4 linked regions of the Homo sapiens genome follow. The protein of the gene in region 2 interacts with the protein of the main gene of each other region in a biochemical or structural test. Each region holds a gene or a part of one and is shown on either strand. Other genes may lie near its edges.

Region 1 (4,074 bases), on a different chromosome or scaffold from region 2:
TGTCCTTCAATGCACTCTGATTCTCTAACCCTTTAAAAACTGTTCTCTCAGCAAGTCTTAGGTTGGCCTGAGGCATAGAGAAGAGAGATATTATCCCCCGCAGACTGAGGGGAAACAGAGAAAGGAAGACGATGCTCCAGTTAGCAAGTCTCTGCCATGGCCCCTGGCCTGGCTGCCCCACAAGGTCAGGGCTCACGCCCCATGGTGCAGGCTCATGGCTGAGCCTCCCCGGCACCAGGGCAGGCCACCGTGAAGGGCTCAGTGCTCTCACTGACGAACACTCTCTCTCAAAAAAACTCTACTCTACTTGCTCCGGCAAACAGGCCCCGGCCGCACTCTCTCCCCCTGTGTGCTGGCGTGTCGGGTGCGGCCTCCACCGCCTGTGCACTGGGACACCAGGAACATGCCACGGCTGCTCACGGGTCATCATTTATTGAGATGAGAATTCACATAAAGTAACATCATACAGAAAATCGTTTCCAGGCCTTAAGAAAAATGATTGTCACTCACTGTGCTTCACAAAAATTTCTTTTAATGAATAAATAATTTGATGAAATCAAAAATATTTACAATATAAACACATGGAAAAGCTCTGGGTCCGTGAATCTGATCGTTGAGTTTTGCATTTTGTGAACTGAGTCCTCCCCCAAGCTTTTCCCTTGGAAACAATACAAATCTGACAGAAACGACGACTCATACAACATATCTTTGTTCATTACACATTTATCTGTTAGTCCTGGAAAGCTACATAAGCATATATTATGCAACATGTTAAAGTACAAATATTACCTAAAATAATATATTACCATAATGCCAGATAGCATTCTCCACAGAACAAAAACATACACTCAGCTGTAACAATAACGAGGGTCACGGGCCACAAAATAATACCCCAAAGGTACAAATTCCTTCATAAGAATATAGTTGTGCTCTTCAGTTTACCAGCTGTCTACGCTGCTCTAGGAAGCCGGTGGCAAGGAGTACGGGATTTGGCAACTGTGGCTGTGTGTGTGTTTCTGTCAGGCAGCAGCATTACTGGGATTGGGCAGTGCAAGCAATTTTAGAAACACTTTCTTGGGCTCTTAAAAAGAGCCAATTATGCAAAGCAAAATAAGCATATTGAGAAGTCTTCATCTCTTTTGCACAAATACCATGGAACGTCTTGGCTTTGTGGTATGAAAGGGATTGTTTGCAGAGCTGTTTACACCATCAGCCAGAATTCAAGTATTCCAGGGCCACCTCGTAGCAGAACTTGTACTGATCCTGGAAAACAGGAGGGGAAAGTGTCAGCTCAAGAATATCTCAACGCTGTTCCTAGTAAAGCAATTACCATAGAGTAGGGTCTTAATGGGAAGACATCAATCTGGGAGGATTTGAATTAGAAATGAATCAGAAAGTCACGGTTCTGAACTCCAGATACATTCACTGTTTGGAGATGCTCCCCACAATGCTGGGTGGAAGGTATTTTGCTACCTGTGCTGGCTAGAATTCCCGGAAGGTTCTGGACACTTGGAACTCTAAATATGTTTGTCCACACATGTATTTTCCAGGATATCAACATGCTGAGCTTTGTGCAGGAGGGTCAGGGGTAGAAGAGAAAGTAACGAGTGCTTCAGGAAATGCCTTCCTGACATCTCTCACAAGGCCCTTGGTACCTAGATGAGGCCTCATGCATGATCCAGCTTTACCTTTGACTTTCAGTCTGTGGGAATTCCTCAATCTCATGAGAATTTCATAAGCACCTCCTGAATACCAAGCCCCTTGACCTGGTCCCTGATTTTGAGAAGTCCGTGATCCAGTGAGGAGGATGAGACAGGTAACCCAATGACAACACATGAGGTGGAATGGTCCCTATGCTCAGGGGACGGCAGGTCTTCTTAGGGAAGATGGCAGTGGGAAGTGGACAGCGCCTTCCCCAGAGGACGGAACTGATGCGTGGAGTGGAGGCAGCCTTGGTTTGCCCTGGACGGTCCTGGCTTCTGCCTGTTGTCCTGGCATAACCCTCTTTCACTCTCAAAGTGCCCTAGTTTGGATAAAGTACGTGGCCATCCTCACCCGTTAATTAAAACAGGCATTCCAGGCGGAGGCAACAGGACGAGGAAAGGTACAGAAGGGGAAATGTTTGAGATCCTCTGGGACCCATAGACCAGTTCTTCATCAGACAGGGAATTAATTTCTCCCTCCTTTCTTTTTTTTTTTTTTTTCTTTTTAAGAAACATGGCCCTTTGTCACCCAAGCTGGAGTGCGGTGGTGCAATCATGGCTCAACACAGCCTCGAACTCTTGGGCTCAGGCAATCCTCCCACCTCAGCCTCCTAATTAGCTGGGATTATAGGCACGAGTCACCACATCCAGCATTGGATTCATTTTTCTTGAGCTCAGCTTTCCTGGATCGTGTACCTTGGCCCAAGCAAGCTCTGCACAAGGTCCTGGCTGAGGTGTGGTCTCGGGTGGCCGGGGAGAGCATTCTGCACCTGTATGCATGGAGTGTGCTGATAGAACCAAGCCTGGGAGTGGTCTCTGAACCCAGAAGAGGGACGCAGGGCTTGAGGAAGCCTCTGCCTGCCACCTGGCAGGAGCCCGGCCCTGGACAGAGCCTTAGCAACTGGAAGGCTCTCTTCTACTTCTGGAGCAGACAAGCTTTCACATGTGTGAGCGAGGTTCAGCACCACTGTCTCTACCCATCACAGCCACAACCAAGGAAATGTATCTATTACTTTTCATTTTGCCAAATTAATTGAAAACGTCCAGTATTTCTTAAGTGCCTCCTAATTTGTCACTGAAATTTCCTTTTCTTCACCTACACTCTGTTTTGTAAATACCCTAGTAGTCCAACCTATTTATTTGAGGACAAGGGACACAGTTTATCTCTCTTTGTATAAAGTAACAGTCTCTAGCCCAGAACTGACACAGTTGAGAGTCAAAGTCGGCTACATGTACACATGATGACAAGCCATGGGTCCAGCAGCATGTGATCCAACTCAATACACATGTACTGCTAGAGACTGGGGATTTTATGACACATTCAGTCCTCGGGAAGGTCATGATCCAGAGGCGAAGACAGAGAACAAGAAGATCATTTCAATCACTGACGGTGCCATGAGATTAATGTCAGTGGAATAACATTCACGAGAAGGCTCACATAACAAGAAAATCGCAGGTGTTAGCGAGGGCGTGGAGAAAGCGAACCCTCATACACGGCTGGAGGGAATGTCAAACGGTGCAGCCACTTTGGAAAACCGTCTGGCAGCTCCTCAAAAGGTTAAACACAGAATTCCCATATGACCTAGCAATTCTACTACTGGGTGTACACCTAAGGAAACTGAAAACATACGTATACACAAAAACTCTGTAAACAAATGTTCACAGAGCATTATTCCTAACAGCCAAAAAGGGTAAACAACTCAAATGTACATCAATAAAATGTAGTATAGCCATAAAGTGGAATATTACTTGGCTATGAAAAGGAATGAAGTACTAATCCATGTTACAACGTGGATGAACTGAAGCATGGATGAATCTGCTGAGTGAAAGAAATCAGATTCAAAAGGGCACACACTCCTTTTCTATGAAAACACCCAGCACATGCAAATCTATAAAGACTGGAAGCTGAAGGGTGGTTGCCAGAGCCTGGAAGTGGGTAATGGGGAGTGGCTGCTAGTAGGTCTAGGATTTCTTTGAGGGGGCTAAGTGGGTGATGGAAATGTTAAACATTTGGTTTGTGGTGATGGTTGCATAACTCTGTGAATACACTGAAAACCAGTGAATGACACACTTTAAAAGGGGATTTTTTTTTATTTGGGGTACATGTGCTTGTTTATTACATGGGTATTACACATGTAATGGTGGGGATTGGGCTCCTAGGGTATTCATCCCCCAAATGAATGTTCATAGTGCATTACACGGCTGGTAGGAATGCAAAACACTGGAAACTGATTACAATCGAATGTTATACCCAACAGGTAATTTTTCAACCCTCCCTCTCCTCCCTGCTCTTTTGGAGTTCCCAGTGTCTATTATTTCCATCTAAAAGGGGAAATGTTATGGCATGCAAATTATATTCCAATAAAGCTTT
Region 2 (7,033 bases):
CCAGAAAAGCATTACCATCTATTGATAAAGAACCACTGTTAACATTTTGGTGCATATCCTTTGAGTTTTTTTAATTATACATGTAACTATATCCTATTTTCCCTCTACTAAAATGGAATCTTAACATACTGCTTAATAGCCTACTTTTAAGCTATCTAAGCTATTCATTTTGTTTCCGTGTTTTTTTTTTTTTTTTTTTTTTTTTTGAGATGGAGTCTTGCTCTGTCACCCAGGCTGGAGAGCAGTGGTGCGATCTGGTATTATACCCAGGAGGCTTTTTGTTCCATGCATGGTATTTTATAATGTTAGTAAATACTTTTCCTTAATTTTATAGTAAGCAGAAAATTTTTATGGTTGGGGTGGATGCAAAAGTGATACATAATAGTTTAGAAGACAACCAATTTTGTTTTACCAGCTGTTTGGGCATTTTTAGTACCCCCTTCTTGATTTGAAGGGTTTAATCTTGACCTTTTTTTTTTTTTCTTCGAAATAGAGTCTCGCTCTGTCACTTAGGCTGGAGTGCAGTGGCACAATCTCAGTTCACTGCAACCTCCACCTCTTGGGTTCAAGCGATTCTCTTGCCTCCGCCTCCCAAGTAGCTGGGATTACAGGTGCCCACCACCATGCCCAGCTAATTTTTGTATTTTTAGTAGAGATGGTGTTTTTCCATGTTGGCCATGCTGGTCTCGAACTTCTGACCTCAGGTAATCCGCCCACTGCAGCCTCCCAAAGTGCTGGGATTACAGATGTGAGCCACCATGCCTGGTCCTGTTTCCGTGTTATTTTAAGACCATCTTGGTCATGGTTTACTAAATGCTTTGTCCATCTGAATCACTGTTGCATAGTTGATGTTGATACCTGTGAGGCAGGCCTTCTGCTCAGGGCAACCTTGAGTATTTGTTGACAGTGGGAGTGGTTTTGTAGAACAAACAATGGCTTATTTGGAGAGCTCCACACAATAGATTATCCTCTCCTGTGGGAGCCAGAAAGAGATGAGCTCACAGATAATGGGTTTCTTCCTTCCTGGTAGTTACGAATAAATAATAGTGTGACAGACTCACCCTCTAGTGGTTGTTGGTAGTACTGAAACAGGAAGAATTGTCTCCTGGTTTGATTTTTCTTACTTTCAATTGCTTTCTCTGTTCCTAGTGGCTGGGCTTCCCAAATGTGATGTTGGTGAATAGGCTTCATTTTGAAAGAGCTGGAGGTATTGTCTTTAGAAATTGGAGGATGGAATCTTACCTCTTAACACATTTGTTGAGTAGCAGACATGACCTTGGAATGACTGTGAAAATTACTTTTCAAGTTTATACCTCATCAGTACCAAAGCCAGATCCTCCTGTGATGTAGCAGGAAGCCCTTTATTAGTTTTTCTCTATCAATCCATCTTTTATAATTTCCAAAATAGGATAAGGAGAAGCTTAAATATGAAATGTATTTAAAGGTCTTATCCTACCAGTTGTTTCCTGTGTGTAAATGCCTAATTTCCTGTTTGGTTAAGGAACTGTTCTCAGACTTCTGTGGCATTGAGTCAGTTGCTTTGGTTAATTCTGTTCTCTGAGAGTTTATCCTGATCTCTACCTAGACAAGTTAATAACTGTCAGATATCATTCAAATAAATGATAAGTAGTAAGGATTTGGTTCTTTCTTTTTGATTAGCCTTTCCTGAATGCTTGTTACTTTCTAAGCCTGCAGACTTCAAAGAAAAAAATGTAGTTTTAATTAAATTGCAGGTGTTTTTAAAATTATTACCTTTTATTTTTACTAACCCATTGAGGAAAATTGATCAGTATATTATTCATGCAAAGGAGAGATAAGATGAGCACACTGAAACTCCAGTTAATCCTCCTTTGCAGATGAGGGTAATGGGAATGTCCAGGAAGCTAGCCATAATGACTTGATGTATTCTCTTGGTTCTTCCAAAACTTCTCAGGAGCTATGAAGACATGATTGGTGAGGAGGTGCCATCGGATCAATACTACTGGGCTCCTTTGGCCCAGCATGAGCGAGGAAGTTTAGCAAGCTTGGATAGCCTGCGCAAAGGAGGGCCTCCACCTCCTAATTGGAGACAGCCAGAGCTGCCAGAGGTGATCGCCATGCTTGGATTCCGCTTGGATGCTGTCAAGTCCAATGCAGCTGCATACCTGCAACACTTATGCTACCGCAATGACAAGGTGAAGACTGACGTGCGGAAGCTCAAGGGCATCCCAGTACTGGTGGGATTGTTAGACCATCCCAAAAAGGAAGTGCACCTTGGAGCCTGTGGAGCTCTCAAGAATATCTCTTTTGGACGTGACCAGGATAACAAGATTGCCATAAAAAACTGTGATGGTGTGCCTGCCCTTGTGCGATTGCTTCGAAAGGCTCGTGATATGGACCTTACTGAAGTTATTACCGGTGAGTTCTAGGCCTAAGGAAAATTGCTAAGTCAGTGTTACTCTCTAGTGATGTTGAGAACTAGAGGGATTTCCAGACCTTTTACTTTTGATGAAAGGTTGTGAACTGGTGGCTGTGGGTCAAATCCATCTCACAGATTTGTTTGGATCACACAGCATTATTGAAATTTTAAAGAACTGGTTGCTGATGTTTAAAATTCAGAAGATTTCACTTAAAATTCCAGATTCTTGGCTTCTATTAAAAACGTGGAAGAGTTGTTAACAATGGATCTCTTTTCTTCCTTAGCAGTATTTGGTCTGAACTGATTGGAGCATGTGCTCTCTAATTTACACTAATCTCCAACACATTCTATTATCTGACCAACTACAGCTGTTTAGGAAGTTGTTTCCCAAACATGGAGCTGTCAACTGCTATTTTTTCACATGCTTGTAATTTCTTTTAATTATCTTCCTCTCTTGACTCACCGGCTTGACCCATATAGACATTTAAGCTTGTGGTTCTTGCTTTATTTAGAGCAGTAGTTTTTCAGATTGTGGGTTGTGATCTATTTGTGTGATCCGTTAGTGAATAAAACAAAATTTTGTGGAGCATAATCAGCATTCCAAGGGAAAGGAATAAAGAAAAAGTAGTATAGACCATTGTTTCTCAGTTGTGGGCCATTTTGCCTGCCCTGCCCTGAGGACATTTGGACATTTGCAGTGTTGGAGATATTTTTGGTTGTTATAACTTGGAACAGGGGAGAGGGAGTGCTACTGGCATCTAGTGAGTAAAGGCCAGGGGTACTGGTAAACATCCAACAATAGACAAGACAGCTCCTCATAACAAAGAATCATCTGGCCGAAAATGTCAGTGGTGCTGAGGTTGAAAAACTCTGGTATAGACAGATCGGAGAGCATTGAGCATTGCTTATAGTTTTGTTTGTTTTTTTTGAGATGGAGTCTCGCTCTGTCACCCAGGCTGGAGTGCAGTGGCACAATCTCAGCTCACCGCAAGCTCCGCCTCATGGGTTCACGCCATTCTCCTGCCTCAGCCTCCCAAGTAGCTGGGACTACAGGTGCCCGCCACCACGCCCGGCTAATTTTTTGTATTTTTAGTGTTAGCCAGGATGGTCTTGATCTCCCAACCTTGTGATCCGCCCGCCTTGGCCTCCCAAATTGCTGGGATTACAGGCGTGAGCCACCACACCCAGCCTGAGCGTTGCTTATAGTTAAACATTGTTTGTTTCATGATCTGTATGTTTATTTTGAGCTATAATGTAGAATATGTTTCTTGGTGAGGGTCGCAAACAAAGCTTGAATATTACTATAAGGTATTTGGTCACTGGGGAAGACTGAGAAGTGATACGATAGGGGGATTCTCTTTGACGTTCTTCAGACATATTGTCTTGAATGCTCAAGAGCCATCTGATGAATTGTCTCTTCCAGGAACCCTGTGGAATCTTTCATCCCATGACTCAATCAAAATGGAGATTGTGGACCATGCACTGCATGCCTTGACAGATGAAGTGATCATTCCTCATTCTGGTTGGGAGCGGGAACCTAATGAAGACTGTAAGCCACGCCACATTGAGTGGGAATCGGTGCTCACCAACACAGCTGGCTGCCTTAGGTAACAGTAGGGACTTTGAGAATATGAAGATGAATTTTTGAGGACTGACTTAAATTTCCTAAAAAAAAAAAAAAATTAAAATTCTTTAGCCTATTCTTTAGCCTCCATTCCTATCTGTATTGCATACTGTAACTCCAACCTTTCTATCTTTGTTGCTATTCTCTCATGTATACCACATGTACCTATATCAGTTTTCTTGCTGTTCCCCACACATCCTCTTCACTTTTATGCCTCTTTGACTTTGTTCATCTACTTTGGTAAGCTTTTGTTCAGCATCTACCACATGTAAGGTGGTCTAGTCCTGGACTTGTGTGTGTCTATGTCCTTGCCCTAGTTATTTGTATTTCAAGTCAGGCTGTGATAAATTCAGCAAAAGGGGTACAGAGTACTAGGAGGTTAGGGCATGGGTGAGGAAGGTCTGTTCTTTCTGTGATGCCTTTCTCTTCTTATTTATCTTTTTGTGGTTAAACTCAAGTGCCTTTATTTTATTAAAGTTTTCCTGAATTCTTTTTATATCCTATAAATGCTGCTATATAATCTTTCTCTCTTTGGAATACACCTCTGTGTGCTGTGTTCCATTCTACATATGTATTATATACTTCCATACGAGAAGTATATATTCCATCTTGAATTACTGCATCTGGTACATATCATTAATCCCTACCCCACAGTGATATAAACATTCAGAAGGCAGGGACTGTTAATCAACTTTCTCTCAACTGCAGTACCTTGCTTATAATAGGTATTTACTATTACAGTGAGTAGAAAAACATATTCAGGAATCTTGTAGGTGTTGAGGGATATTTAAGGGAGGATTTCTGGATTTGAGTCATCTTGAAGCTTCTGGTTTCCCCTCAGGAATGTAAGCTCAGAGAGGAGTGAAGCTCGCCGGAAACTTCGGGAATGTGATGGTTTAGTTGATGCCCTCATTTTCATTGTTCAGGCTGAGATTGGGCAGAAGGATTCAGACAGCAAGGTAAGTGCTGTCTTACCTTTAATGGCTGAGTGAATTTCATTCACCACAACTATGAAGTATCTGTAGGTCAGAGACCTATCATCTCAGGCTTTCAAGTAACATTAAATATTTATACTGTCCCCTACCCCTTATTTTTGAGACAGAGTCTTGCTCTGTTGCCCAGCCTGGGGTGCAGTGATGTGATCTCAGCTCACTGCAACTTCTGCTTCCTGGGTTCAAGCGATTCTCATGCCTCAGCCTCCCAAGTAGATGGGATTACAGGCGTGTGCCACCACACCCAGCTAATTTTTGTATTTTTAGTAGAGACGGGGTTTCACCATGTTGGCCTGGCTGGTCTCAAACTCTTGACCTCACGTGATCCCCCTGCCTCAGCCTCCCAAAGCATTGGGATTACAGGCGTGAGCCACTGTGCCCAGCCAAGCCCTTACTCCTTAAAGTGGGTATTCAACTTAAAACATGTTTTTTGTTTGTTTGTTTGTTTTTTTGAGATGGAGTCTGGCTCTGTCCCAGGCTGGAGTACAGTCCCGTGATCTCGGCTCATTGCGACCTCTCCCTCCTGGGTTCAAGCAATTCTCTGCCTCATCTCCTGAGTAGCTGGGATTACAGGCACCTGCCACCATGCCCGGCTAATTTTTGTGTTTTAGTAGAGACAGGGTTTCACCAGGTTGGTCAGGCTGGTTTTGAACTCCCGACCTCAGGTGATCCACCCGCCTCGGCCTCCCAAAGTGCTGGGATTACAGGTGTGAGCCACTGTGCCCGGCTTTTTTTTCTTTTTTTTTTAAATCTGTCACCTATGTATTTTAAAGCTGCTTAGCTGTCTTCCAAAATTGTACATTGTCTAAGTAGTAAGAATGATGATCCAATTTCAGTCACACACCAAATAGTGGCAGAAGCCAATAAGTCCATAGTTGGACCTTCCATTAGCCTGAGGCTACCGGGATTTCAAGAAGCCTGGAGCACTTAAGAGGCATCCTGAGAAGTTATGGATTGGGTTATGCATTTGAAGATCAACATTTTAATACCTGAGTCATGGAAACCTGTACTTGTGGAGAAATCACAATAGACATTCTTTTTTCTCATTGGCCCTTTTATGTCCCTAAGCTTGTAGAGAACTGTGTTTGCCTTCTTCGGAACTTATCATATCAAGTTCACCGGGAGATCCCACAGGCAGAGCGTTACCAAGAGGCAGCTCCCAATGTTGCCAACAATACTGGGCCACATGCTGCCAGTTGCTTTGGGGCCAAGAAGGGCAAAGGTGAGTCTTGGTTCCTGTTTCTTAGTCTTTAATGTGGGATAGGGAAAGGAAGGAACACTTTAGCTTAAGGTACAAAATACTTGGCAACAGTATGGGAGTCTGCCTGGTTATGGATGTCTTTTTGGTTTGCTGCTTTCCCTGTGTTGTGTGCTTCATTCAAGGTGTGGTGATGGGATGGTGGTTGTGATGTGTTGGTGGTGGTGGTGGTGGTGGTGGTGGTGGTATCAATGAGTGGGGCAGTGGAAAATGAGAACTCAACTAATCTGGGACCTTCTTCCCCATACGTCCTTTGCATTTTCTGTGTTTTTCTTTTCTTCTCTGTGCTTCCCTGCTTATTTGCCCATGATTCTGCTGACATCTTTCTCCTGCATTTTTCTTATTTCATTTCTCTTCTCTGCTTTCTACCTTGGGTGATGCACTGGAAGATGAGTGGTTCTCCAGAGGTGAGTGGAGTCTTTTAAGGTGCTTATCTACTTCTAATTTGCATGTTTTGATTTTAGCTTCCCTAGTATGTCCTTGCCTAACCTTTCCCTGTCTATGCATGTAGGAAAGTTCAGTTGAGGAAGACACTGAAACAAGTTTAGCTCTTTGGAGCTAATAGCTCACGGCATGCTGTTTCTGGGCAGCAGTCCCCATTATCAGAACTCAGGACAATAGCATCAACAGTGGTCATCCTCATCTTACCTATCTGCTGCCTGTTTTCTATCCTTGTTTCTGAATAGTCCCCTGCTGGAACAAGTTGCCCTCACCTGCCCCTTTTCCCCTCGTGGTGCATCTGTGATCAAAAGGTTCTGACT
Region 3 (7,033 bases), about 13 Mb from region 2:
CCATTGTGGTGTGCGCCCATGGTTCCAGCTACTCAGGAAGCTGAGGTGAGAGGATCGCTTGAACCCAGGAAGTCAAAGCTGCAGTGAGCTATGATTGCACCACTGCACTCCAGCCTGGGTGACAGAGTGAGACCCTGTCTCAAAATAAATAAATAAATAAATAAATAAATCTTTAACAACAAAATAAAAAGCCATTGTGCAGGCTGTGCCTTCTTTTCTGGAGGAAGGACTAAATCTTTCTCAGCTGAAGGGACCGTGGTCAAGCGGGACAGTCTTCCCGGGATACTGAGGCGGTCACCGGGTCAGTGGTGCTGCCTTCACAGCCAGGGAAAGGAGGATCCACTCTGAACCCAGCGTGGCCTAAAATAAAAGTCTGAGCATATTTTAAAAGTTCCTTTTATCTACACTTTCTGACGAAAAAAAAAACTGCCCCAAGAGCTGGCATTTTAGATAGTGCCAAGTGAGAAACAATGACAGGGTTCACTCAGTGCCCAACTCTGGGCTTTCGATAAGAACACAAAGCTCACAGTACCTCACTATTAACACATAATCATTTCCAGATAATAAAAAAAGGGACAGGGCATTTAAGGTCTCAGTTATTCAGACATCTCATACTTTAGAAACCTCTCGCTTGTAAGGTAGAGCTTAGGGACAAATGTTCCCTGATAAAAGCCACAATACTGAGAAGCGGACACTCTAAAATTATAAATACGGAAATTGTTTGCAATGGGAATTTAAAAATTACTGAGCACAGAAGTATCTAAATATACACATATAAACACACACATTACACAAATACACATATATGTGTGTGTCTTATATTCATTTACTGCATGGGTATCAGGTCAAGAAGATAAATGCAGTTTCCACACGGGCTGTCCCTCCACAGATGACCATGGGCCCTGTTGCACCTGGGGCTCCATCCGCAGAGGGGCCCTCGGGAGGGTGGTGGCGACGCCTCTTACTTGATATGCTCCTGGTGCCCGGAGCCCTGCACCGTCTTGGCACCCCATCTTTGCTCCTTCTCACTCACATCATTCTGAAAAGAAAAGCGACCAGTAAATCTCACAGCCTGGATTGTGACACAGACAAACCACCACCCCATCAAAGAAAAACCCAGGAGAGCCACTTCCACTTCATGAAAGAGGAAAGCAAAGGCTGGCGGCTCCTACCACAAAATCAGGGTCGGTCTCCCAGTCATCGGCCCCCGCGTCATCCTGGGCGATGGACACAGCGTGGCCTGCTGAAGCTTTCCACATCTGAAAGAGCAGCCGGGGAGGGTTACGGAGGCCTCAGGGCGCCATCCACAGAGGCCAGCAGATGAGCCCTTTGGCCAAAACTACCGAGATTCTAGGCAACCCAGGAGGACGAGGCTGCAGGACCAGCCAATCCTTCATGATCCATAAGCCTGACTGACAACCACAGGAGTAAAAGAAATTTCACCTCGGGGTTCTAACACTGCCGTCACCTGACGTCAGAAATATACTGGAAATACTATTTGGCTTCACCTTGAGTGAGAAAATTTTCTGGAAAATAAAAAAGTCGTGTGTGCACTTATTTATTCATTAAGAACATATTCCTGTTCTGTTCAATCATATGATGATAGTTTCCAACCAAAAATAAAAGCACCATTTTGGATTATGTATTATAAATATACTAAATGTTACTAATGGTAAATCTCATGGTATGTGTATTTTATCACACATTTTTAAAAAGTGCACCCATTTTGATTTCAAGTGCTTACTGAAACCATAACAATAATTTTCCTAATTCAGACTTACAATTTAATAAATGTTTCAAGTAGTTTATTGGAGAATTGCTTTACTCTCTACTTGGAAGAAAACAGGAATATAAAATGCCACCTTTTCCTCTATCAGGCAGCTCTGCAAGTGGGCAGCCACCTTCTCCCTCAGCCCTTGAAGACTGGAAGGTTTTCTCTGTTATACAGAACAATGGCACATCTGTAAACCCTAACAAGACAATTCTTGTAACTGCAGTGGTAAAATATAAAATTTTAAGGTTTTTTTTTTTTTTTCAAACTATGTATAAAAAGAAGTGATTCCTTTTCCACAGAAATAGTAATACAATTACACATAGGCCACAGAGCAACTGAGAGATTATTTTAAATCAAACAACCATAAGCTGTGCCCAGGGGTCTGAACTGAGGACACCCAATTCACTTTTTCTCAGGTGCCATGTTGGGACTCTAGCGCCCTGAATCAGGACTGGACAAAACCCCTTCGCAGCTTGAGAATGTCCCATCTGGCTCCTCTCCCTCCAGCCTGGCTGGGTCTCAAGTCCAAATCCAATGTGACAGTGAGGGACCAATCAGGGCAGCGTGCTCTCAAATTTCTAGGTGCGACTTTGTCTCTTGGGGAAGAACCGTCTGCCAAGGGGTGTAGCAGGACTAACAGTGCCCCTGGAACCTTCTGTCAATGCCCAAAGCATGGCAAGAATTTCCAGAGTGATCTGCTTTTGCCAGGATTTTAGAAAACAGATGAACTAGAATCTCAGAACGGAAAGGCACAACCAGTCCATCTTGTCCCAACGCGCCCATTTATAAATGAAGCAACGGCTGCAGGAAAGAGAAACGGGATGCTTGGTCTCCGGCCGCCCCATGGCACCATGCTGCCCTGGCGAGGGGGCTGCCCGCCTGCAGGACTTCAGCTGCCCATGGTTCCCACCACTGAGAAGGTGGCTGCAAGAAAGGATGGGAGTCCCTGCAGGGCTGGCGAGGCCACCTTCACCCCCAAGGCAAAGGAGAAAGGCGGCAGGTGTCTTTGCCTGGTACTTTTTCAGGCTCATCGGGGAGAGATTAGCAGAGCACAGTCTCTGCTCATCTTCCCGGACACAGCTTCACCAGCGAGCGGGGTGGGCACTTGCGAGCTTCACAATCCTGTGCCTGGGGGCCCCACCCATGTTCATGGGGTGGGGAAGGGGCCAGATTTCCCCTCAGGGAGGACAGGAATGGTTCTCTTCCTCAATTCCAGAGTTTTCTGCAATTGTCTCCTCTAAGTCATATGCAACAGAAACCTGACTTTATTTTTTAAACAATGAAATTTCCTTCCAGAATATTATCATCTCTCTCCCAGTAAATCCACAGAAACAGCAACCTCCCCCGTTTCCTGTTAAAGGGATTTTTGCCCTTACCATCCACAGGAAAAGAATGTTAGGATGTTCACAATGCACAAGTACCTTTCTTTCCGCTTGGAGATAAAAGGCTGTTCACGAAATTCTGTTTAAAACACAGTAATCCAATGAGGAATTTCCAGGCATTGGGGACTGATTCCGTCTGTAAAAAGATTAAGGGTAAAAAGCTGAGAAGGATGTATGTTGAGCAGCTCCCTGGGCAAACCCTTCTGTGTGGAGATCTTTTTAGAAAACTTCAGAAATCTTCCCAAACGTAACAAGGTTTTGTAATGAAATCTGAGAGGAGGATGGGAAGACTTGCATTTTACTAATAAAAAAGTTCAACAGAGAGAAACTAAAGAAATAAGTTTTAAAAGATTTCTAACTACATGATGACTTTTTGTCTTTTTTGTTTTGTTTTTTTTGAGATGGAGTTTCACTCTTGTTGCACAGGCTGGAGTGCAATGGCACAATCGCGGCTTACCGCAAACTCCACCTCCCGGGTTCAAGTGATTCTCCTGCCTCAGCCTCCCAAGTAGCTGGGATTACAGGCAGGCGCCACCACGCCCAGCTAATTTTCTATTTTTAGTACAGACGGGTTTTCTCCATGTTGGTCAGGCTGGTCTCAAACTCCCGACCTCAGGTGATCCGCCTGCCTTGGCCTCCCAAAGTGCTGGGATTACAGGTGTGAGGCATGGCGCCCGGCCTACATGATGTTTCTTATGAATGCAAACAGAAATTATTGCCTTAATTGCTAGTATGCATTTACTGTTTGCCATAATTCTTAGAGATTTTCACTTTTTATTCATTCTAATTAATGACATTATAAAATAAAATTGTTACTGTGAGCTTTTTAAAACAATAATATAAGAAAAACACTCCTTGAGAGGATCATGATATGGCCGGGAGGAAAAACCAGTATGGTGACTGTCTATCAAGACATGAGACTGGCAGCTGGAGAGCCGAGGAGGAGGCGGGCTGCATTCCTAATGAACGTACACGGTTACCGCGCAGGGAGCAAGACTCCAGCTCCCCAGAGGGTGGCCAAGCACACGACCCCTTCCCTAGGACCACACATCAGCCTCAACTGGACACCATACTGCTAGACAACACACATGGACGAATGAAATCCCCTTGTCCCTAGGAACAAGCCGGTCACAGGCAGAGTGGTTTCTCACGCATTAGGAACTAGGGGATGGTGCCTGGCTGGCCCTCCTGGTAATTAATTAATTTCCTATCTGGTTTCTGACCCAACTGTTTGCTCCATCTCTCTCCCCAGTTCCCTTCGGCAATCCTAACTTCTACAGATTGCTTGCTACATTCTGGTTACTGCAGTTATTAGTGTAATCGGCAAGCATCTATACAACTCTGCCTAAAAATTTAGCCAGGCATGGTCGTGTATACCTGTAGTCCCAGCTACTCAGGAGGCTGAGGTGGGGGAACTGCTTGAGCCCAGGAGCTCAAGGTTGCAGTGAGCCATGATCACACCACTGCACCCCAGCCTGGGAGACAGAGAGAGACCCTGTCTCATACATAAATCAATCATAAAGTAAATAATAAAAATCTACTCATGAGCAGCTAAGGATAGGCTCAGATCCACAATTTTATACTCTCAATATTGGAAATTTAAAAAACAATCACAAAAATAACCAATAGGAAATAAGTTTGATTGTTTTGTGGATCCAAAGATAAAAAGCCTCTAGAGCCCTACCTCAAAACCATACAGAAAAATTAACTCAAAAATGAACTAAAATCCTAAAAGGGTGTAAATTTTTGTGACTTTGAATTTGGCAATAGTTTCTTAGATATGACACCAAAACACTAGAGGAAAAAAATAAATTGTACAAAATTAAAAATTTTGTGCTTCATCAAGAAGGTGACAAGACGATCCTGAGAGAAAAGTATTTTGAACTGTAGATCCAGAATATATAAAGAACTCTTGGCCAGGTGAGGTGGCTCACGCCTGTAATCCCAGCACTTTCGGAGGCCGAGGCGGGCGGATTACTAGGTCAAGAGATCGAGACCATCCTGGCCAACATGGTGAAACCCCGTCTCTACGAAAAATACAAAAATTAACAGGGCGTGGTGACGCATGCCTGTAGTCCCAGCTACTTGGGAGGCTGAAGCAGGAGAACTGCTTGAACCCGGGAGACAGAGGCTGTAGTGAGCCGAGATTGCGCCACTATACTGCAGCCTGGCGACAGAGTGAGACTCCATCTCAAAAAAAAAAAAAAAAAAAAAGGAACTCTTATAATTCAATAAAAAGGACGAATAACCCCATTTAAAAATGATTGAAGGATCTGAAGAGACATTTCTTCAGAGGAGATATACAAATGGCCAACAAGCTCAGGAAAAGTTTGTTCAATGTCATTAACCACCAAGGAAATGCAAATCAAAACTGCAATGAGAACCCACCTCATACCCACTAGGATGACTAAAATAAAACAGCCAATGACAAATCTCAGCAACAGTGTTGAAAAACTGGAAGCCTCATAGACTGCTGACAGGGATGTTAAATGGAAAAGGTCTGGCAGTTCCTCAGAAGGTTAAACTCAGGTACTGTATGACTCAGCAACTCCACTCCTAGGTCTATGCCCAAGAGAAATAAAGTATAAGCACACAAAAACTTGTGCGTGAGTGTTCAGAACAGCACTATTCATAGCAGCCAAAAAACAGAAACACTCCAAATGTCCATCAACTGATAGATACATAACATGTGGTCTACCTAACACAAAGGCATTTTATTCTGCCACAAAGAGGATCCAGCAGTGACACCTGCTACAGCGTGGAGGGACCTCAAATCCATTGCGCAAAGGAAAACCACGCACAAAAGACCACATATTATACGATTCAATTTCTAGGAAATGTCTGGAGTTCACAAATCTACAGAGACAAAAGATACATTGCTGGTTGCCCAGGGCTGGGCGGATGGTGGTGGTGAGGATAGGGAGGTCATGGCTAAAAGGTACAAGGGCTTCTTTTTGAGGTGATAAAATTATTCTGAAATTGACTGTGGTGACAGTTGTACAACTGCATGAAGATACTAAAAACCAGTGGAGAGTACACACTACACAGGCGTATTGTATGGTATGTGAATTATATCTCGATAAAGCTGTTACAATACGGTTCAAAAGAAGATAATGACTCTGTCCATCCTCAACATTAAACCTTCCTTGCAAACGTCAGTGTACAAATCAAGATTGCACAAACGTGAAGTAATCTTGCTGTCTAGACAGAGTGAAAAATTCCTCTACACAATAACTTTTTTTTTCTTTTTCAGACAGTCTTGCTCTGTTGCCTAGGTTGGAGTGCAACAGCGCGATCTCGGCTCACTGCAACCTCTGTCTCCCAGGTTCAAGTGATTTTCCTGCCTCAGCTTCCCGAGTAGCTGGGATTACAGGCATGCGCCATCACACCCAGCTAATTTTTTGTATTTTTAGTAGAGATGGGGTTTCATTATGTTGGTCCAGGCTGATCTCCAACTCCTGGCCTCAAGTGATTTGCCAGCCTCAGCCTCTCAAAGTGCTGGGATTACAGGCACGAACCACCGCGCCTAAAAGCCCCCCACCAGCCTTTTTTTTCTTTTTTTTTTCTGAGACAGGGTCTTGCACTGTGGCCCAGGCTAGAGTGCAGAGGCACAATCTCAGCTCACTGCAACCTCTGTGTCCCAGGTTCAGGTGATCCTCCCACCTCAGCCTCCCGAGTAGCTAGGACTACAGGAATGCACCACCACACCAAGCTGATTTTTCTCTCTCTTTTTTTTTTTGTTTTTTTTTGTTTGAGACGAAGTCTCACTCTGTTGCCCAGGCTGGAGTGCAATGGTGTGATCTCAGCTCACCGCAACCTCTGCCTCCTGGGTTCAAGCGATTCTCCTGCCTCACCCTCCTGAGTAGCTGGGACTACA
Region 4 (7,799 bases), on a different chromosome or scaffold from region 2:
ATCAGGAGGTAAAGGCTCAGTATTACCATCCTGCGCTGTACCTGAGATGCTTTTAACCTGTGACAATGGGACACCAAGCTCTGCTATAAATTTCACTCCTAATAACTGCCCTGATTTAATTAACTCATCAAGCAAATCTGATCTAACACGAACAATTTTAGAACTATAGATATAATTGAGAATTTCTGCAAAGATCTCTGCTCTTATAAAGCTCAGTTCAACAACTTGCCCAGCAACAGAGAAGAGCTGATGGAAGTAGGTACTAGAAGCTGAAAGAATATTCTTGTGAGCCCGGAATTTTCGGTCTTCCACAATAACGGTAACATCACAGAAGAGTCCATGGCCACGTTGCTCATTCAAGGAGTTCAGCAGACTGCCAGAGTACTGAATGTCTGTAGCAGAAATCAGTTTTCTACTCTCCATGCCTTTAAGAGAAAGAGAGGAGGGGATGGGAGAGGATTAGAGAGAAAAAACAAAAGTACTTATTTAGAATTTAAGCAGTAGCATCATTAAATAGTTTATTCAAGTTTTAACCAAAGTTCAGCATAATTTTTTGGCTTTTACAGAAATTGTTCATACAGGTTGGCTTTTGGAACAAGTGTCCAATTTCATGGCTTGCTCCTGAGTTGAGCAAGTTTTACATTGTTACAGAGATTTGAACAGTAATCTCCATAGTCACCTTTTTTTGAATATTAGATACATGCACCTCCACTAAGTGATTTTTAAAGATTAGAATTAATTTTCTTAGTCCCAATTTTGGGTTTTCTCTCCAAGAAGAGGTAAGAGTTGACTTTTAACTGTCAAAATTAAGGAAAATCATCATGAACACACAGAAGTTATTTCGCCTGTAAATGATTGAAATGTCAGAAAAGCTCAGCGCGTGCAATACTGTGTCTGAAATACATACTCTTAATTTTAACTAATCTTTAAGAATATATGCAGAATCTACACCCTGGAGCCAATGACATTTATAAACACTGACAATTATTACCTCCCAACGTCCCATTATTTTTCTGTTATTTAAATTGGGGTGCCTCATCTTGATAAACTATTAAACATCTTTCTTACCCTTTCCTCTTTCTTCATCCCCTTGTCCCTTCCCCTCATCTCTCCATCTTTACAATTTCCAGAGGTGGAATGTTAAACAGTGCCAAGTGAAGTCAACAGACACTATCATGAAAAAATATGACAAAGGAAAAGGAAAGTTTACCATTTCTAAATGCCCACTTCCAAGAAAACACGAAACATTTTATTTTTGTTGGTAAAGAATCATATGCATTGGTATGAGAATTTTTTCCACACCAAATGAGTTAGTGAAAATGAAAACATTAACTTATTGGAATAGACTACTCTAGAAAAAGGGGATGATGTCAGTAGAATGCATTGTTGTGTAGCACTAGCAAAACATCATTTTTTGCACTTTGCAGAAGATATTTCCAGTAACAAAGAGGCCAGAGTTTAAAAAAACCCATATATTAAAAATATATAATATCCATACATATTATATATGGATATATTTTAATATATGGATATTATATATTAACAATTAGTTGACAAGTACTTTTAGTGAAGAAATATTTTTATTAATATTCTCTCCCTTTGAAGTTACCAAAAGGGTGTCGATGTCACAATGCTTAAGTTATATACAGGTGGAGGGCAGTTCTGTCTCAAATACCTTCTAAATTTTTCAAAATGATACCTTAAGAACAAACAGCAGGCAAAAAGTCTAAAAATCAAGATTTAAAACATTATTAGAAGGTGTTGCATGTTAACAGTACCAAGGAATTCCAGGTTACCATAAAGGCATTCATCATCAGAAAGGGTGACCTTTGGACAGTTTGCCAAAAACCAGGGCTTCCGAAATACGGGCATTTCGACAGAAGTCGATATTAAGTGGAAAGACAGGTTTTCTGAAAACGGCACGCAATTTTTGTCATTTGCTCCCGGGTTCTTCCAATATGGGAATGCGTCAAATGTACGTGTCCAGGTGACACTGGGACTCGGTTTCGTTTCGTTTATGTGTCCCCCTCCTCCCACTCAGGGTGGCCCCAGAGACAGCACAAGTCGGTCTGAACCCACTCCGAAGATATGCGATTCGACTGTGGAAAAGCCATTCCACATCACTGTGAAACCCTTGACCGAGGGCCAGTTCGGAGGAGCTGGTGACGGTGGAAAGAGATAAAAGCCATCCGCGAGGGAGTGAAACAAACCGACACGCGGCTCCCTGCGGCAGCTGAACCTCATCTCCCTTCCTCCACCTCCCTCTTCCCCATATGGACCCTGCCAGCTGCAACCGAGGTTTTTAACCCCAATTCACGTGCAAAGCAAGCTTCTTGCAAATACAGACGGAGGTACAAACAGCAGAGTGAGGGCGGGAGGAATATGGGGTACCAGGGAAAGTAGAAGGTGGCGAACGGCAGGGTGGGGTGTTGGGGGGGGGATGAAGCGAAGCAGGCGGCATTGTTGTGCCCCGGGAAGGGGACGGAAGGGGAGGATGGGCCTGGCAGAAAAGCTCTAAATCAAAGTAGGGGCTAGGGGAGTAAAAGAGGCACAAAAAAGCAGCGAGAGGGGCGAGGGAAAAGCCAAGTGGGTCTCTGTGATGGATTCCCCAAGCCCCGGGGCCTACCCAGGGCACCGGCAGCCCCTCGGCCCCTAACGGCGAAGGGGACCGCGCCGCGGCCCTCGCGGCTCGTCCCCTCCTTCGCTCCCCGGCCCACACAAAGAAAGAGCCGGAGGAGCTGAGCCTCCGACTCTGCCGCTTCCTGGTTCAAGTGAGGCGAATGCAAACGCAGGCGCGGCCCAGGGACGGAGAAGGCAAGCGCGCTCCTTCGCCCCCTCCCTGATTGGGGCCGGGTCCTCACCTGCTTCCCGGCGCCGCCGCTTCTCCTCCTCCGGACGCGCGGAAGGCTGGGAGTCCCCCAACAAGAAGAAGCCGCACTCCCCAGCGATTCTGCCCCTTCTTTAAACGTCGCTCCAGTCTGGGTCGACGTCGACGCGGCCGCCGCCTCCTGCCGCCAACGCTGCTACAGCTGCCCCACGCCGCCGACAGAGGGCACAGCGCGGGGGCGAAGCGCTGAAGCCAAAGGCGCCCTCCTCTTCCGAGCGCAGGCCGGGGTGGTCCGGAAGGGCCCGAGCTTGAGGCGGCTCCACTTCGGCGCCGTGCTCTGCCTTCGGTTCTTTCCGCAAGGGGGCGGAGGAAGACTGGGAAGCTCTTGTGTGTTCGGCTCTTTCCGGAGGGCTAACGGGTGGGAAAAAAGGAAAGGGAAAGATCGGGTAAGACAGTCGCAAGCAATTGGATGGAAGGGAAGCGAGTCGTTTTCATCGAAATTCAATGTGAACTTCTAGGGCATACAAACTTTTAGAGACTATACAGGTTTCATTTATTTTGCAAGTTTGAATCTGCTCTATTAGACTGTTTGCTAGATGATAAACCATCTTGAAATATAATCAAAATACATACAATCAAATAGAAATTCACAACTTCTTATGGTAATTCAAGTTCTGGGATAACAAGAGAGCAACTACATTACAGTAACTACTTTTAAGAAAGAAATTTAGTGTTTGGACAACTATCTTCTTAATTGAATACTAAATGGTGCAGTACTATGTTAATTCCCTCATTCCAACTAGCATTTACTGACCCCCTGCTTGATCTGTAGCAAAAACCCTATGTTAGGCTCTCGGGAATACAAAAATGAATAACCCAAAGGTCTCTACCTCTTTAGGGAGCTCAGTAGGTAGGTACACAAACATGGACAAAAATATTTGTACAAGGTGTAGAAGCAGAGAGAAGAGAATAGCAAATTGAATGCTGTCATTTGACCTGTATCTTGAAAGATTAATAATATTAACACTTGCATTTTTAATTTTTTATTGTTACTATTTTAATTTTTTATTATTACTATTTCCATAACATTTCATCTTCAGAGGGCTTTAGTGTCTGACACATAGTATGTGTTCAGTGATTGTTTAATGACCGAAAAAATACATTGTGAGTTACATAATTTTTTAAAATCCTCTGGTAATACCCTTCCAACTGAGTACCATAATAAATGAAGCAACAGGATGGGTGTTTGGAGAGCAAAATGTTTCCCTTTTAGGCTGGTTATTGATCGTATTCAACTAAGGAACCAAATAGTAACTTTTTTTCTGCCATAATTAAGGCCATTCACTACCTTCATTATCTTTTTAAAAAGATATATATAGGATAATACTGCATTCATTTCCAAAATCTTAAATTTGTACCTATTAATACCTTGCAGTGGAATTCCTGTGCTTCTTTCCTAAAAAATCTTGCTGAAAATGTCCATCAGGATATTAGACTGAAAACAGATGTAACTATATCTAATTTTCTCTGACAGGAAATCAGACATGGATGTCATCATCTCATCTACCTATCCCTAATCTATTCTTCATCCTCCTCAATAAAGTAAAGCCACATGGTATAATAAAACATCAAAGTGGTATAATATAGCTGTATTTCACATGGAAATATGCAATTCCTTAAGCTCTTCTCCAAGATTTTGTATTGTGGGAAAACAAACTATGTGGGAATTATTGCATTATTGATTTTTGATTAGGACTTAGCATTATGAAAAGTTTCATTGTTTACTATAAAGATATTTCATGGCAAATAGAAGTATGCTGTTGTAAAATAAACTAAGGCAGATTAGTATTTTTCCTGGCAACTGAGTACTTAATAACCATTTTTCTGAGTTATCCTCCCCAAAACTTAGTAGTAAAAAAAAAAATCTTAGTAATTAGAACAAAGTATATCTTGAAAGTTTAGGATCTATTTATCTTTCAGTGGCTTAATTGATGAAAACTAAAATGAGACATATCTTTGAAATACAGATCACAGTGGCAATAGATGCCACTCTAGATATCATGTTTGTTGGTCAGCTCTCAGTAAACTGGAAGGCACAATGCAATTTATTTTGTACCAGCATTTACATCACTGAGGCTGGCAACAGAATTGCCATGCCATTGTCACTTTCCTGAAAGTATTTTAAAAGTTTGGAGTACCAACTAACATATGATGAAACCTGTTCATTCAAAGCACAGTAAACCTTCTCTTCCCTTCTTGCTGTATCTCTCACCCCCTAACCAAGCAAAAACTAAACAAGTTTAAAAGCTACCTATAATGAAAGGGGGTCCAATGGTCAGGAAAGGAATTTTATTTGTAGGAAAGCAGAACAGACCAAGAAGCCTGAGTGGCCTTAATAATTGTCTTTGGGACAGGATCACTGGAAAGTTTAATTAATTTTCTGTTTCTCAACTAGTCATTTCACTTTTACTTTTGTTTTTAATCTGGAGGGCTTAACCCTACTTCAAACAACCCAGTAGTTTGAACTCTATTTCAAACAACAACAACTCACTTTGGGAGGCCGAGGTGGGAGGATCACCTGAGGTCAGAGAACAACCTATATCAAATGGATTTGGAGGTATCAATTGTTTCACATTCTAGAAAGGTTTTATTGGCTGAAAATGGGATGAGTTAGGTTTTATAGCCGTATTGTCAGCGTTTGCTTGCCTTTTGACCTTGATTGTGAATTCCATGAGGGCGGTAACTGTCCTCTCCTGTGTTAAAATGCCAACAATCTTGTGGGTGCTTAATATATATTAATTGATGACAAAAGATAAAGTGACACTCGTTCAGTCTTAGAGCACTTCCTATATGTTATGCTTATGGTTACAGATTTGGTAAGGTCACTCCATGGGATCTGCAGAAACCCTAGTAAGGTAGAGTGGAAGAAACAAAGTCTTAAGCAGAAGATGTGAGTGGGTTGGAATTCTGATACTGCCACTTCCTAGCTCTTTGATCTTATGCCTGATTCTTCATCTGTAAAATAGGGATAATAATACCTTCCCACAGAGTCACTTTGAGGATTAAATGAATCAACTATGCATAGTGTCAAACTGCTCACGGTTTCCAGAATATGCCATGCAATTTACTGCCTTCAAGTCTGAGCCTGGAGCCCTGAGCTTGGAATAGTCATTCCCTTCATAGCCACACCTCGCTTAACCTGTTGTCTGGTTAGTTCCTGGCAAGTGCCTGGTTTTCCATAAAAACCCAACTCAAGTACTAACTTATTTGTGAAGCATCCCTTGGCCCAACAAATTGTAGATAGAGATGGTTGCTTAATGCTGAACGAATGAGTGTCTGGAACCCAGTAAGTGCCAAATATATGTTGCTTTCTCACCACTATCCCCTTTTCTGCTTAATCCCAACAAATCTCTCTTTAAGTGACCTGTCTAATACTGCCTATTGCCCTTTTTTCTTAAAACTTTCCAAAGTCAATTGGATAGGGATATATAACTCTCCTACTGGAAAAGGAGTCGTCGATAATTGCTAACAATAATACAATCTACCAAAAAAAGCAACAGACAGCTTATTCCAAACTTGAACAAAATTGAGGGAATATACTACCTATGAGTCATTTGTGAAAATTACTTGGCAATATATGAAGTCAAATCAAATAAGAAATGAGTCCAAATAAAGAATTAAGAATGGAGATTTTGCAGTAAGCCAATCTATTTAAGTGGAAGACTAAGTCCAAACAACAGATTGATTATGACTATGTGACAATGAAACTTATAAAGCCCGACACTGTAAACTTCATTCATTTTTTCAATACATATTAAACATATATCATTTAGTATTTACTCTGTGCCAGGCAGTGTTGTAGGCAGTGTTGTAGGCACTGTGGATATAATTATCATCAAGTTGAGATATTGGTCTTCATGGAACTTACATTATAATGGAAGAGACATACAATCAACATTTGTATATATATAATATAAATATATAATACAAAAACAGAAAGTAGTAAGTGCTATGAAGAAAAATAGAGCAAAGGGATAGAGAATGATGAGGGTGTTATTGTAAATTGTGTGGTCAAGCACAGCCTCTCTGAAAAGATGATGTATGGCCAAAGAATGGAATGAACTAAGGGAAAGGGCCATATAAATATCTGGGGAAGAACATTTTAGGCAGTGGAATGTGTCATTGCCCTTCAACCAAAGACTACCAGAAACATACCCATAGTTGACAGATTGAGTTTATTACTCTTACTCCAGGGAGGGACAACACACACTATAGGTAACTATGATGTGTTTCAATAAGAAGTTGTTAGAATGAACCTATTATAGGATTTGGACAATTTGGGGGAAGGTCTAGGAATCAGGAGTTCCGTCTCAGATACATCAGAAAGCAGGGGCAATTGTATGATTGCACATTTCAATAAATCTTATTTATAGGGAGGGCAGACTAGAGGGAGGATAAAGCTGTACATTAACTGGCAAAGTAGCAGTGACCTATCTTGGCCAAGAAGGGGTGTTTGGTGTTTTCTGGGTGTCACAGTGAGCTTGTTTTTGTCTGTGCTTAGACAAGCTTATGAAGTGGTCTTGTTTTGTCTCACTTGATCAGGCTCCCAGTGATCTTGTCTTGGGTTGGTGTTCTGTGAGTTTATGTTCAACAAGAGAAGAACATGCCTAATTGTGAGTGCGAGGTCAGTTTGTGGATATCAGGGGCTGCTCCCACTTCCCTTTCTCAAACAGCAAGCGAAAAGCCTTAGAATATAAGGAACAAGGCCGGGCACGGTGGCTCATGCCTGTAATCCCAGCACTTTGGGAGGCCGAGGTGGGAGGATCACTTGAGGTCAGGAATTCGAGACCAGCCTGGCCAACGTGACCAAACCCCGTCTCTACTAAAAATACACAAATTAGCCGAGTGTGGTGGCGGGCACCTATAATCCCAGCTACTTGGGAGGCTGAGGCAGGAGAATCACTTGAACCCA

Evidence for each region.
Region 1: of the proteins of CTNND1 (region 2) and PTPRM, one has a biochemical effect on the other in vitro, tested with the Homo sapiens proteins (one study listed by BioGRID).
Region 3: the proteins of CTNND1 (region 2) and CTTN form a complex in vitro, tested with the Homo sapiens proteins (one study listed by BioGRID).
Region 4: the proteins of CTNND1 (region 2) and ZBTB33 form a complex in vitro, tested with the Homo sapiens proteins (one study listed by BioGRID).

Annotation. Positions count from the first base shown.
Region 1 is NC_000018.10:8,403,298-8,407,371, reverse strand, and holds the end of PTPRM (receptor-type tyrosine-protein phosphatase mu isoform 1 precursor), read right to left. Parts: exon of another isoform or gene 3,775-4,074; intron 1,264-3,774; coding exon 1,210-1,263; 3' UTR 516-1,209; downstream 1-515. UniProt on the Homo sapiens protein: Receptor protein-tyrosine phosphatase that mediates homotypic cell-cell interactions and plays a role in adipogenic differentiation via modulation of p120 catenin/CTNND1 phosphorylation.
Region 2 is NC_000011.10:57,799,800-57,806,832, forward strand, and holds part of CTNND1 (catenin delta-1), read left to right. Parts: intron 1-1,933; coding exon 1,934-2,397; intron 2,398-3,821; coding exon 3,822-4,005; intron 4,006-4,863; coding exon 4,864-4,981; intron 4,982-6,082; coding exon 6,083-6,236; intron 6,237-6,661; coding exon 6,662-6,679; intron 6,680-7,033. UniProt on the Homo sapiens protein: Key regulator of cell-cell adhesion that associates with and regulates the cell adhesion properties of both C-, E- and N-cadherins, being critical for their surface stability.
Region 3 is NC_000011.10:70,401,524-70,408,556, reverse strand, and holds part of CTTN (src substrate cortactin), read right to left. Parts: intron 3,293-7,033; 5' UTR 3,196-3,292; intron 1,260-3,195; coding exon 1,173-1,259; intron 1,040-1,172; coding exon 966-1,039; intron 1-965.
Region 4 is NC_000023.11:120,246,040-120,253,838, reverse strand, and holds the start of ZBTB33 (transcriptional regulator Kaiso), read right to left. Parts: upstream 3,028-7,799; 5' UTR 2,862-3,027; intron 2,407-2,861; exon of another isoform or gene 2,183-2,406; coding exon of another isoform or gene 2,042-2,182; intron 1,171-2,041; 5' UTR 1,069-1,170; intron 426-1,068; 5' UTR 424-425; coding exon 1-423. UniProt on the Homo sapiens protein: Transcriptional regulator with bimodal DNA-binding specificity.